2 separate regions of the Homo sapiens genome follow, and region 2 is reported to be linked to region 1. The links are microRNA targets in miRTarBase. Many come from high-throughput screens and were not tested one by one. Region 1 holds a microRNA gene; the other region holds the end of a gene's coding sequence.
What was found. Region 1 holds the annotated microRNA hsa-miR-5010-3p (UUUUGUGUCUCCCAUUCCCCAG, at 4,132-4,153, opposite strand). A microRNA usually pairs through its seed, bases 2 to 8, with sites in the 3' UTR of a target mRNA and lowers its output. Matches are read on the target gene's strand: a 7mer-m8 pairs with bases 2 to 8, a 7mer-A1 pairs with bases 2 to 7 and ends in A, and an 8mer does both.

Region 1 (7,000 bases):
CAATGATGGCAGCCTGGAACTACATTTCAAGAGTTCTGAGTTCTCCTGGGCAGCCATTCCCTCAACTGCTCCATGCTGTCATGCCGTGGCAACACTGCATTCCTAACAAGAAGCTGGTCCCCGATTCTGTCCCTTTAATCACCACCCAATCTGTGAGTGTACAGGTAGGTGTACATCTATGTGTATGTGGAATTCGCTAGGTAAGGAGAGACCAGGTTCCTTGGAAGGTATGCCCTGGGGCAATAGTTCTGCATAAAAATCAGTTTGATGTTTACAGTGATAACTACAATCAAATCCCTGTCTCATGCCTTCTCTGAGGAAGAAAAGATGTCTAATTATGGTAGGTAAGAAGCCAAGCACACTTCATGTGGCAGGAGGGAGGAAAAGAGAGAAAACTCAGGAGACAGAATTAGCAGATTAATACATTAGCCTGCTCACTGTTTTCAAACACATCACCCCCCTTCCTATGATGCTGCATGAATCTCACACTAGTGGTTTATATGTTATCGAATCAAATGTTTTTCTTATTGTCCCCACTGAGGAGACCAGAACTTGTATAATGGGGCAGCCCTTGAATCAGGAAACAGCAGGGATAAAGTGGGAGGTATGAAGATGCCTAGGATGGATGCCAGGAAGAACAGCAGCACCATCCCTACAGCTGGTTCAGCAGCCCCAGAGGCTCCACCCCTGGTAAGAGGGCCACAGCTCAGAACGCCTCCTGCAGTCCTGGGCCACAGGGAAGATCCAGGCATCCTGGACGCACAGCCGCATTTTGCCAGGAGGGGGCGCACAAGCACCAATTTCATTCACTTCTGTTTTAGTGGTGGGGGAGGCGCCCCACTCGTGTCACGGGAACAGCCCTCCAAAGACGAGATTCTGGAAGTTGCACAAAGGAGGTTTGCACTGTTTTTTCCTCTCCTACCCAATACTCCTATTGCCAAAATAAATACGACATATATGGGGAGGCTGTTCCTTGCAAACAGCACCTGAGGGCATTCTGATGGTATCCTCTGCCTCCTCTGGGGTCTTCTCTCACTCTAGACAGGCTAAAAGCAGTCTTTTTATGGGGGACCCCAGGCAGACACCCTCTCTCTAGGGCATCCCAGGTTTTTTTGTTGTTGTTGTTGTTGTTGTTGTTTTGAGACGGAGTCTCGGTCTGTCGCCCAGGTTGCAGTGCAGTGGCGCGATCTTGGCTCACTGCAACCTCCATCTCCTGGGTTCAAGCGATTCTCTTGCCTCAGCCTCCCGAGTAGCTGGGATTACAGGCGCCCACCATCACGCCCAGCTAATGTTTGCATTTTTAGTAGAGATGGGGTTTCACCATGTTGTCCAGGCTGGTCTCGAACTCCTGACCTCAGGTGATCTGCCTGCCTCAGCCTCCCAGAATGCTGGGATTATAGGTGTGAGCCATCGCACCCAGTAAGGGCATCCCACTTTTAAGCAGAGCAGCCACTACCCATCCTAGAGCACCTGCTTTTGCTGTGGCAGCACTTGGTGTGTGCATTACTTCCTACTTGCTCACAGTAATCTTGGCAGTGAATGTTCTGCTCAGGTTCCCTGCCTGGTGTGACAGTGCTGGAATTCCAACCCAGGTCGCCCAATTCCGGAGCCTGCTGTCCTGCCACTCATCACTTCAGTTCAGGGGGACCTGGGAAGACACGGGGAGGCCACAGGTGAGCCTGAGGAGGAAGCAATCTTCTGGCAACAAAATGAGGCTCAAGCCCAGGCGGCCTTGCTCTGCAACAGTGCCTTGCTCCCGCCCTGCCCAGGGAGATGACCGGCTACCCACGTGGGCTGGAATCAAGGTGAGGTGGTCACTGTTCCCTCAAACCCAGGGCTCAAGAGACAGGAGTGAAAAGAAAAGAAAGGAGGCCAAGGGGCAAGAAAAAGTGAGTCCTCAGAGGTTCTCGTGCACTGAGGAGGGCTGAGGAAGTGTGCTTGCGGGGGTCGGCTGATAAGCTTAGAACAGGGAGGCCAGCCAGATGAGCTGGGTGGGGAGGAGGGAGGCCAGGAGGGAGAGAGCCAGGCCAGAGGAAGCCAGGTCTACTGACGCAGCAGGGCTTTTGAAGAAGAGTGCACCCTAGCCACGTCTTGCCCTTCCATGCCTCACTCTCCGCCCATCATTCAGAAAAACCCACAGCTGAATCTTTGAGGAGGCTCAGGGGTCACCCAGCCATGAGAATAATCAAAGATAAAGGGGAGTGGGGAATGAGTTTCTCAGGTTCAGATGCTGGATTTTCTTCAGGTTTTGAGAACGAAGAGAGACATTCATAGTCCTCTTCTGGCCTTGAGATCATGAACACCACAGAGCATCCCATCCAGGGGCCTCTAAGGCACACCAGTGAGTCAGACCCCTATGCTTGTAAAACAGGAGAAGTGTGTGAGTGCTCCTCTGGGGAGAGGGGCCAGAACTTCCAGAGACATTGGGGTTTTGAGACCCCCAAAAAGAGAATCACAACATAAAGGAGAAAATAGAGACCCAAAGAAGTGGAGTCTGAGGTGGAACAGCCACAGAAAATACAGACTGCCCCAGTTTTTAGTATAAGCATATCCCATGCACATTTGGGAAATACTCATACTAAAAAAATTATTTGTTGTTTATGTGAAATACACCCTGTATTTTTATTTTTTGAGACCGAGTTTCACTCTTGTTGCCCAGGCTGGAGTACAATGGCGCGATCTTGGCTCAATGCAACCTCCACTTCCTGGGTTCAAGCGATTCTCCTGCCTCAGCCTCCCAAGTAGCTGAGATTCCAGGCATGCACCACCATGCCCGGCTAATGTTTTTGTATTTTTAGTAGAGACAGCGTTTCTCCATGTTGGTCAGGCTGGTCTCGAACTCCCCACCTCAGGTGATCCACCCGCCTCGGCCTCCCAAAGTGCTGGGATTACAGGAGTGAACCACCGTGCCTGGCCCCCAACCCCTCCCCTATTTTTTTTTTTTTTTTTTTGAGACAGAGTCTCGCTCTGTTGCCCAGGCTGGAGTGCAGTGGCACAATCTCAGCTCACTGCAACCCCTGCCTCCTGGGTTTAAGAGATTCTTTCCTGCCTCAGCCTCCTGAGTAGCTGGGATTACAGGCACGTGCCACCACACCTGGCTAATTTTTGTATATTTAGTAGAGACGGGGTTTTACCATGTTGGCCAGGCTGGTCTCGAATTCCTGACCTCAGGTGATTCACCTGCCTTAGCCTCCCAAAGTGCTAGGATTACAGGCATGAGCCACCGTGCCCAGCCAAACTGTACTTTTATGTGCTACATCTGGCAACGCTGGTTTGAGGTGGTCACAGCCCAGACCACACCCCCGCTCTCCCAGTCCCAGAGGCTGAACTCATGCTCTCTCCACACACAGCCATTAAGAGTCACAAGCTTCATTAAAGAAAACAAACAGAACCACCCCAAACCTGCCCATGTGAAGAAGCTGCGTGAGTGTACCGACCTCCACCCTATAGAGCCAGGAATCCCTCCGGTCCACAATGGAGCTGCCAGGGGTCCAACTCAAAGACCCCTGGCACAATGACAGAACAAAGAGGATAAAGCTGGGGTGCAGCGTGTTCTAGCCTTTCCTGCACTTAACATACATTCCAGAGCTGCTTCCACTGTTCTGAAGACAGAAGAGTTACACATCAGAGAGAAAACCAGAAACCCTAAGACCCCAGCAGCCCCTTTAAGCCAAAATCAGGAGCACTGGGGACAGCTAAAGGCAGGGAGCGGGACCTGACACCACTCACCAGGGACATCTCCCTAGAGCCTAGGGAAGGCTGAGCTGTGCTTTTCTGTGACCATTTTCCGAAACTCTGTGGCAATGCCGGTGCTGGGGTGTCCTGAGGTGAAGCTAGTGCAGGGCCAGCTCATCTTTCCTGCACAGAGCTGCAGGGCTGTGTGTGGGAGAAAAGCTGCCCTCTCACCGCAGCTAAGGACACATCCACCCCCATGCCCGCCCTGCCCCACTGCCCCTCACCAGTGTAAGCGCAGTGCGTGGAGAAAGGCCGAGAGGCCCTCCATGATCAGGAGGATGGCCACGGTCAGGGTGGCAAAGGCAGTGAAGAAGAAGAACAGCACCAAACCTCCCGCCAAGCTCTTCACGCTCAGGCCGATGTGGATCACCATGGTCCAAAGCACCTCAGACAGCTCTGGGGAATGGGAGACACAAAATCCAGTGCAGTTTGGCAAGAGGCAGCTGTAGGCCATGAATTTTGCTCTGCCATCCCCCTGCTCTAGGGTTCCCTGGATCCTGGCTTCCCACTGCCTTAGTGGGACCACCATGCAGAGCTAACCTGGCACAAGTGCTGAGCCTCCTGTCTGTACTCATTCTCCTTGGGTTCAGGAACCTGAATAATTCCAGAACCTTCATGTAATTTCCATTTGACTTAAGCCCCCCAACTGACAGTGCGCCCACAGAGGGGGAAACTAGAGTTCCGGAGCCCGGAGAGAGGTACTCACGCGCATGAGCGAGGCTGAGGGCCCAGAGCCGCAAGTAGGAGGCAGTGTTGGAGATGCAGCCCAGGCAGTACTCGATGGTGTGGATGGCCTGGTGGACCATGGTGTCCCCAAAGTCAAACTGTCGTGGGAGGAAACCAGAGAGAAGATATAAGGCTAGGAGGGGAACGTGCAGGCATTCTGAGTTGTGGCTACTTGGCGCTTTGAACCTGGGCCAGGGCAGGGGACTGCACTTCCCATGGATGGCACCTCAACTCTGGAGGGGCCAGAAGCACCCAGTGTTGAGCTCAGGTGGTGATTTCGGCAATGCCTTCCCCAAAAATCCTGCCTGACTTAGCCCTCACCTGGGACACCTCCATTCCCCTCAATACATTACATTTTAATTAACTACATCTTAATAAGATTCTTTTCAACACATTTGTTCTTCTCCCTCTGGGGCTCTGTGCTCAAGAGAGGAGTGTGTGCTGAGTTGACGGCACTCTGTTGAGAAAGTGACTGTCTGGGTCTGGGACCCTAAGGACCTGCAGGAGGGCAGGAAGGGATTTTCCCCAGAGTGCGCTTCAGGAGACAGACTCTCAACCCGGACACTGTCCTGAGAAGACTAGGCCTCTATGGCCACTTTACTTATTCTTTTTACAGCCTTTTGGGAGCAAGATAACCTTCTTTTTCTTTTGTGACTTCTAAAGAGATTACACGGTGAATTTTTTTTTCCCTACATGATTTCACCACCATGCACAGGGAAATCCTGACAAAGTTTACAAATTTCCACATGGGTTAAGGCCAAACAGCATATCTGTTTGGGTTAAGACTAAATAGCATATCTCCAGTTTCTTGTTTGTTTTCGTTTTCCTCAAGCTCCCTTTGTCCCAGTTTTCCTTTCAATACCAAGAATTATTTCCAGAATAAAGGAATGGGCTGGAACAAGCTCTTGGGAGTGAACTTTCAGGTTTGCTCCAAGCACAGTCAGGGGTGAATGTGGGCTTCTGAATTTGGTATATTCTGGAAGCCCCAGGTACTTTCCCTGGGCCTCTCTGTCAAGCTGACCAAAGACCAGGAGGCGCTCCCTTATGGGGCTTCCCCCCGCAGAGCCCAGACCAGAATCTTCTGAGCTTTCAGACACTCCTGAGGGCTCAGTGGCCTCCCCATCGGCCCCTGCCCTCAGGTCAGGGTCTATTTTTCACCGCAGTTCCTTTCAAAACCCACGTGATTCCACTCCCAAAGGACACCAGAAATGCCTTGGGAAATCACTGAGAACATGGGGATGGGAGAAAGTGGCTTGGCTGGTAAAGCCACAACAGCCCAGGCCACAGGGGTGCAGCCAGCGTGGAGGGGGCTGGCTCCACCATGCCATCTCTGGGCGAACGTCTGCTTCTCCCTCACCTCTGTCGACACCTAGCCTATTTCTGGGCTTTTCTTCCGGAACAGGCTCTTCAAGCTTCCTTACTTACCCTGAAAACTAGGGTAATCCTAGTTCCCTGAGTTCCCTAAATCCCAACACCGTGGTTAAGAGCTCTTTCCTACCACTGCTGGCTGCCGCCCCAGGGCCCGCATTGAGAGGAAGAAGTCCATGGCTCCCAGGAGTGCTGATCTCTACTCCTATGGGCTGGGAGGGCAGTGACCACTGGGCTCCCTTACAGCCAATCCCTTCAGTGTTTTTATTCTACCTCAAGTTTCTCCCACCGAATAAACTGCAGGACAGGAGAGAAGCCTCGCTTCCAGGCCTTACCCTTGCCTTCTCTCCTTCATTCCCAGCTTCCTGCAGGTGTTCTCAGGAGAAGCAAGGACTGGGTGAGAAATCCAGCTCAGCACTTATGAGTCTGCCACTCAGCACACGCCCGTATCAATCGGCCATGACCAACCATGAATCGCTGCAGAGTCCCTGTCCACATCTTCTGCCTCAGTTTCCTCTCTGCCCAGCCAGTCCTCACCCTACTGCACCCTGGCTTCCACCTTCACTCCTCCACAAAATGCCTCTACTTAGTAAGGTCACCCTAACCTCCCAGTTGTTACTTTTTTTTTTGAGACGGAGTTTCACTTGTCACCCAGGCTAGAGTGCAGTGGTGCGATCTCAGCTCACTGCAACCTCTGCCTCCCGGGTTCAAGCAATTCTCCTGCCTCAGCCTCCTCAGTAGCTGGGATTACAGGCACGCACCACCACACCCGGCTAATTTTTTAGTAAAGATGGGATTTCACCATGTTGGCCAGGCTGGTCTCAAACTCCTGACTTCAGGTGATCCACCCACCTTGGCCTCCCAAAGTGCTGGGGATTACAGGCGTGAGCCCCCGCGCCTGGCCCAGCTGTTAAAGCTAACAGATGTTCTGTGCCCTTGTCCATGCTCCTGCAGTGTCTGTCACCATAGCCTCTTCCTCCTTTTTGAAATACCTGCCATCCCTTGGTTTTCCTCCTACCTCTCTGGACAGTTCTTTTTAGTCTCCATCGAGGTTCTTCCTTTTTTTTTTCTTTTTTCAAGACAGGAGTGCAGTGGCACGATCTCAGCTCACCACAACCTCTGCCTCCCAGGAGAATCAAGTGATTCTCCTCTCTCAGCCTCCCGAGTAGCT
Region 2 (7,132 bases), not on the chromosome of region 1:
GAAACAGATTTCAGGTTGTTACCCAGTTATAAAGGAGTGAGGCAGGAGAGTGCAATATGCTGTATCTCATGGGTAAAGGGGTGGCGTGTGCATATCATAATTCTGCTAGTGTCCTGGCTCTGCCACTTGTCAGTTGTGACTAAACAGACATGTTACTTCACCTATTCAAGCCTAATTTACTCATATGTAAAATAAATATAATGGTAATATGTGGCTCATCAAGTAAGCCTTAAATGCTTGTAGCATAATTGTCTACATAGCATATGCTCAATGATTAGTAGCTCTATTATTGCTATTACTTAAAAAAACCCAGCAGAGCAGAAGAGAAGAAAGAAAGAATTCCTGATTGTTTCATGTAATTTTGAGTCATGGCAAACACCATATCCATAGAAAAATGGATAGGAAGAGACTAAATAAATTCCATTTTAGAGATTTAAGTGATGATGTGGGCTAAGGTATAGCTACACCTATGGGAAGCTAAAAAGACATGAAATTAGACATAATTAGATTGAAAAGTCCAACTAAGTTAAGGTCAGGGTAGTGTTGAGATGGTAAATGTCAATGTTTAAAAGGAGGTGCAAAGTGATTTAGCTTCAAATACATTGAATTCTTGGTAATATAGACATGAATATTTTCCATTGTATAACAGAGTTTTCACCTGTACTATGGAAACCTATTGTGTCCTTCATTCTTGCTTCTTGAGTAAGATATTGACATAAGAATAAATAATGTTTAGGTTATTTCTTCTTTATAAGGAAGTATAACAATATATTGTAGTATGATCCATAATTCCCAGAGATCCATGTTAATTTACCTTGCCATTACAGTGTAACAAATAATAGTGTAGAAGTTACAAAAAGAAGGGAAAAAGCATCAGAGTGAAAGTTTAGATAAGAGTTATTTAATTATTCACAATTAAGAAAAGGGCTTTACCCTATAGTTGTTTATTATTTCATGGTTTTGCCCAAGTCGTTTGGGCACTCTTGCCTTCTATTTTTTCTTTTTATTTTAAAGTGGGACAATTAAAACGACATACAATTAAACCCTAATAAAGTTTAAGAACTTTTGAGAAATTTAGTAAATAAAATTGATTGTTATGAAAATCCGTGACAATTGGTTTTTAAGAAAATAAATAATTAAAGGCTTAAGTGGCAGTCCACAATGCAAACTGGACTTATACACACGTAAATACATATATATGTGTATATGTGTGTGTGTAATACACATACACACTAGAATTAACCTCTTTTTTTATAACAATGGATATAAAATAAAATGATCAGATTTCTTTTTCAGATTTTGGGTCATTATGACTGATTGTATTTCATTTTATATCCTTTTCAAACTAAGAAAAACTTATGATATTATAAGTTGAAGATAAAAGAATATATATTTATAAAAACTTTCTATATATTATTTCTATGTTATGTATATGTGCATATACATGTTTTTGTATATGTGTGTGCGTATGTGTGTATCCCCACAAAAATAAAGAGAATGCCATAAGGTCCATTAGCAGACAAATATTTTGCGTAAATGTTTGGAAGGCTAACAGAACAATAGTGGGTGAAGCTGGGCAGAAAATTTGCAGACTAGGGAATCAGTGTTGCAGCTCAGTAGAAAACTTATCTTCTCATCACAATCCTAGGATGTGTCATGATTTGGACATATCATATGGCAGAAAACTGGAATGAGACATGAGGGTGAACTAGAATAAAGTAGAATGGAAGTCTGTAGCTCCCTTTCCCATGCTGTGTTTGAAGAACATAATTCGGAGGAAAAAAATAGGATTACAAAATGTAAAAAGCTGCAATTAACATCATCAGAGTGAGTCAAGAAAAGACTGATCTAAAAGTAAGAGCAGAATAATATAAAAAAAGACAGAGAACAGAACAACAAAATACTCCTGAAATTAACATTTTTTTTAAAAAAACCACTACAAAAAAAAATCAATAGAACTAGAAGACAAAGAGGAAAATATCACCATGAAAATAAAGTATAAGACAGAAAGTGATAGTTAAAATATAATTAGTGCTTAAACCTAGAACATCCAAAAACCAAAGATTCAAAATTCCACAGAGATAACAGAAAAACGCAGGGTAGGAAACTATTGAAGAATGATTGCAGGAAAAATATCTCAGAACTAAAGGTTCTGAAGCTCTTTGTTGAAAGGGGTCATGGAATACCAAGTCCTGAGAATGACCAAAAAAAACTCCTCTTGACTCGTCCATGTGAAATTTTATAACAATAAGGATAAAAAAAAGAAGACCATTATGCAAAAAACCATATCACATAGAAAAGAATGACATGGTCACTATGCTATCTCATCACCTCAGTTGGATGCTAAAATATGAGAGAAACTGTTTTCAGAATATTGAGGAAATCATTTAAAAAACATAATTCAAATGAGAATTATGTACCTAGCCAAACTACAGATTGATGAGGCAAATAAATAAATAAATAAATAAATAAATAAATAAATAAATTCAAGGAAGGAGTAATTTATGAAAATAACACACACCTACCACCACATACACATGTCCCTTCCTTTAGTAACCAAACTCAGGCTGTTTATTGACATTTAATAAACTCTTTCTTCAGGTCTAGTAATAACTTAGGGGTCACTTCAAATATAAGGCCTGCGTATTGACATGTGGTTTTAGGAATTCCCATTTTTAATAAAATAGTTACTGAAATTTTCCAAGGATTTCTGTGGGCAATAGCACATCCCTTCTAATTTTTTCTTCCTACCATTTGTTTATCCTGTTTGGCTCAAGATCTGGGCCTAACTATTTTAACACTTTTTTCTCTCTTTTCATATGTACACCTCTGCTTTTCAATCTTGCAGAAGAATTTTGACATTTGCACCTAGGAAATGTTTGTCTGGCTCCTCTTATGTTGTAGAAGCGGTGAGTTTTAATGTATAACCAATGCAATCCATAGTTCAAAGATTCCTAATTCTTATATTATGCTTAAAGGTTCTCTGTGATTCTCATAATTATATGTAGTCAATATTTAAATGATTTAGTGAACTTCATAAGATTGTCACTAGAATTTCAGAATCAAGACATTTTAGAGGAAATTTGTACAACACTAAGTTCAACAAATTAATTTTGCCAAAGAAAACAGAACACTGGGAGGCTAAGGAGCTTGACCCATATTTCTGGTGAGAATTTGGTACAAAAGTAATTTTAGATCATTTCTAGCATATCACATCGTTTCACTCATATGTGTTGATCTAATACTTCATTGAATATAATTAAATGTAACATTTAAAAATAGATATAAGTAACACACATATGTTACATATAATACATACATACATACTTCTATAAAAGTAAACATGCAAGGCAATAACAAAATTATGGTTTAATTATTATTAATAGTCAAAATTCCCCATATAAATTCTAAACATTTTTATAGTGCTTAATGCTTAAATGAAGGTCAGTAATTTTGTTATTATAAATAAAACAGAACCCAACATGTTATAAGTATTGAAATATTAGGCCTAGTGTGATGTCATAGCATAAAATGTATCCCATAATATTTATATTTACGAGCACCAAAGACCTCTTTTCCCCATATCTCTCCTCTGGTGACCCATTGTATCTGAAATCATTTCTATTCATTTTTTTCCATATATTTGGGTTTTTTTGTGTGTGTTTTAAACCAAGCCAGTTTTTAAAAAAGAAAATATGATGAACACCTGTGTGATTGATATGGGCCGAATTGTGTCTCTTCAAAAATCATATGTTGAAGTCCTAAATCCCAGCAACTCACAATGTGATTATATTTGGAGACAGAGCCTTTATAGAGGTAATCAAGATAAAAAGAGCTATTATGGGTGGGTCCTAATACAGTATAACTGGCATCTTTTTTTTGTTTTTGTTTGTTTGTTTGTTGGTTTTGAGAGAGAGTCTCACTCTATTGCCGAGGCTGGAATGCAGTGGTGACAACTCAGCTCACTGCAACCTCTGCCCCCTGGGTTTTAAGCAATTCTGTCTGCCTCAGCCTCTGGACTAGCTGGGATTACAGGTGCCTGTCACCACGCCCAGCTAATTTTTGTGTTTTTGGTAGAGACAGGGTTTCGCCATGTTGGCCAGGCTGGTCTTGAACTCCTGACCTCAGGTGATCCATGTACCTTGGCCTCCCAAAGTGCTGGGATTACAGGCACCGCGCCCGGCCTGGTGTATTTTATAAGAAGAGCAATTAGGACATGAGTAAGCACAGAGGGAGTACCATGTGAACACACAGAGAGAAGACGGCCATGGGCAAGCCAAGGAGGGACTCCCAGGAGAAATCAACTCTGTCAACACCTTGATCTTGGATGTTTTGCCTCCAGAATTGTGAGAAAATACATTTCGGTTAAGTCACTCAGTCTGTGATATTTTGTTATGGCAGACCTAGCAAAGGAATGCAGTGGTGTGGCAAAAATAAAAGCCGGATGTACTCAAAAGTATTTAACAGTTTGGTGAAAATAAGATCTACTTATTTCATATTTTTGTTTAGCACCTCAGCCATGAAGTTTGAAATGACCTGCCCCTCACAAGTTTTCTCCATGCTACCGTTGCTTCTGCCAAATGATCTCATGCAGAGGCAGTTAGATTTCCTAGCAAAATGCAAAATGCAGCAATTCCTGATGGGAATCTTTTTGTCTATCAGAAGTAATCTTGCATAGTAAGCTTCTTCAGGGGTTATATATCAATCCATAGCAAATCATGTTGCTAAGGCAAATCCCAAAATTGTCCTAATTTTTCTCTCTAGGATGGTTATGGCATCACCAGCTTTTAAAACATGTTATGTAAATACTTTCCCAAACATACTATAAATTATCACACTACATCAATATTATAATGCAGTTCTTGGGATAGACAAAGGTAAAATTGGGATGAGATGGAAGAAAACAAGTTCAACAGCCATTCCTGAGAGGGAGAAAATGAGAATATGCAACTGGGAGATATCAACAAAGAAATGGGGAATGTGAATTCAAATGCCCCCATTGCCACAGCATAGTGAGTAGTTGGATCATTTTAAAGGATGTATTTATAAATGAATAACGGTGAATATGATTTTCTTGTGTTGTCTATATTTCTGCCTGTTTTTGTCATGTGTAAATTTTTAGCTTCAAAACCTTGCAAATATTAAATATATCTATAAGTATTTCATAAACCCAGCTAGATAGTGACCATATCTTCAGGATGGACCCATAAGCAACTTTAATTTTTTTCATATATATAGTGACAATATTAGAGTAGTCACTTAAGTAGTTATCATATTCATATAAAATATATTATTTTGTAATTAGTTTGCATCTTTTTATGTTTTCCACGCTAGTGTGCAATCCGCTTGAAAGCAATGTATGTGAGTTTAGTTTACTAATGCGCTTATAAAATCTAATATTACTTAGAAATTTGCATCATTACACGGAATTTGTAAGGGATAATTTACATTAAGATTTTTGTAGATGAGAGAACAAAGAGGTAACTATGAGCTCCAATATAATAATGGTGCTCACAAAGTTGAAGTCCATGTAAGTAAAGTAAGTATATCAGCTGCCTGAAATTGAATTTACGTTCATTTTAGGATTCAGTCATTGGTTTGAACTTTTTTAAGTCCCTGATTTTTTATTTTTTTCAATAATGTATAACAAATATTTTTAGACATCTTATAAATCCATCCTCTATTATTTGATATGTATTTTATTTTTGCTGCTCATCAAAGAATCACTAGATTGTAAGAAACTCTGAGAAACTGTATAATGAATTTCTCTTTCCATGCTTAAATGAATGGCACTTTTTTCTTCTAAGAATTTTCATAGAAACACAACTTGAAATTACATCTATGACTAAAAGCTGAATCTGGTGACTGTTAAAACCAATTTTCCACACACCAGTACAATATTAAGCAAAACCAATATTTATTTTAATGTGTAATTTGAGCCCTGAGGCCTCTCTTTATAAAGAGGAATATTTTTTCTTTTTTTTCTTTCTTTTTTTTTTGGAAAAGAAAGTAACATTTTAATGAACAGCTTTAATGTGAACTAATGTTAAGATCAAACATTGTTTCTAGAATTTGGGACTTACATATTGAACTTGATATTTTCATATTTATTTCAATTTTCTGAAAGGATAGGATAAACAAATACGTTTTAGCATACAGTTTAAAAAAGAAAAAGAAAACCTTTTGAATTAGAAGAAGGTGGAGATCAGAAAGTGTTCTTCTTTTGTTCTCAAAAGGAATGAGGAGAGTCAGAGTGTCGCTATTGCTTCTTGACATAAAGACGGTGTCTTTGTTTTATGTCTTTATCTCTGAATCCCGCAATACCATCACAGCAGAGTGTACTGTACACCACTTTAAATGATAAGAGTTTCAATAGGCACTTTAGTGGAATTAAGAAAAATCTAACACTCTTCCACCGTGATGCCACATAGCTATCTTCGTTCTAGGTTGTCATGTCAGTAAATTGTATTGAATAGGCCTGAGCTTGTCTCAGTGTGATTGTGAAAAAACAAAACAACAAAACAAAGCAAGTACACATTATAGGATGTATCTCTTGTTGGCAGAATAAACCAAAACTGACAATATGATTAATTTAGTAACTTACTAGAAACCAGGTAATCAAAGGAATCTTGTCCCAGAGTGTGTGTGTGTGTGTGTGTGTTTGTGTGTGTGTGTGTGTGTGAGAGAGATTTCTATTAATATTTGTGTTTCTTTTTCTTTTTTAAAAATCTCCCCTCTCGGTTGTATTTTAGCCTCCACGACTCCCTTAAGTGACTTTATCAGGGTTATAACTCTCTTCTTCGCCAAACATGTCTGCCAAGACTTTAAAGCGGGGTCCCCAGTCTGTCAGATAGTCATAGTCCTGGTCGGCTTCTGTGGTGAGAGAGTCTATAGAGCTGAGGGACTCTGCCACGGACCCACTCCCTTCGTAGGCATATGTGGCCAGTGAATCGTATGGTGGGGCAGTTGGATCCACATCATTTTCCTGTAGCCTTTGATGAATGAAATCCCTTATGTCTGTGTTATCTTCCATGGGTGGTCTCTGACGAGGTAAACAGAGAGAGTCTGGTTTTATATCCCTGCGAATTTTGTTCTCCTCAATCACTTTTGGGTTTCTCAGAGCCCCGATGTC

Region 2: miRTarBase lists CDH12 as a target of hsa-miR-5010-3p. Seed matches in the 3' UTR shown: 7mer-m8 at 6,702-6,708 and 7mer-m8 at 6,661-6,667.

What each region holds. Positions count from the first base shown.
Region 1 is chr17:42,511,420-42,518,419 of GRCh38, reverse strand. MIR5010 (microRNA 5010) reads right to left here and starts at 4,232; the gene lies at 4,113-4,232. It overlaps ATP6V0A1 (ATPase H+ transporting V0 subunit a1), which reads right to left. Exons shown (of 22, transcript NM_001130021.3): 20 at 4,442-4,559; 21 at 3,960-4,131. RefSeq lists a silencer at 821-870 and an enhancer at 1,314-1,813.
Region 2 is chr5:21,744,971-21,752,102 of GRCh38, forward strand. CDH12 (cadherin 12) reads right to left here. Exons shown (of 15, transcript NM_004061.5): 15 at 5,703-7,132. The coding sequence ends at 6,767. Among named protein-coding and RNA genes, the nearest start is that of SNORA105A, 140 kb to the right of the region's middle.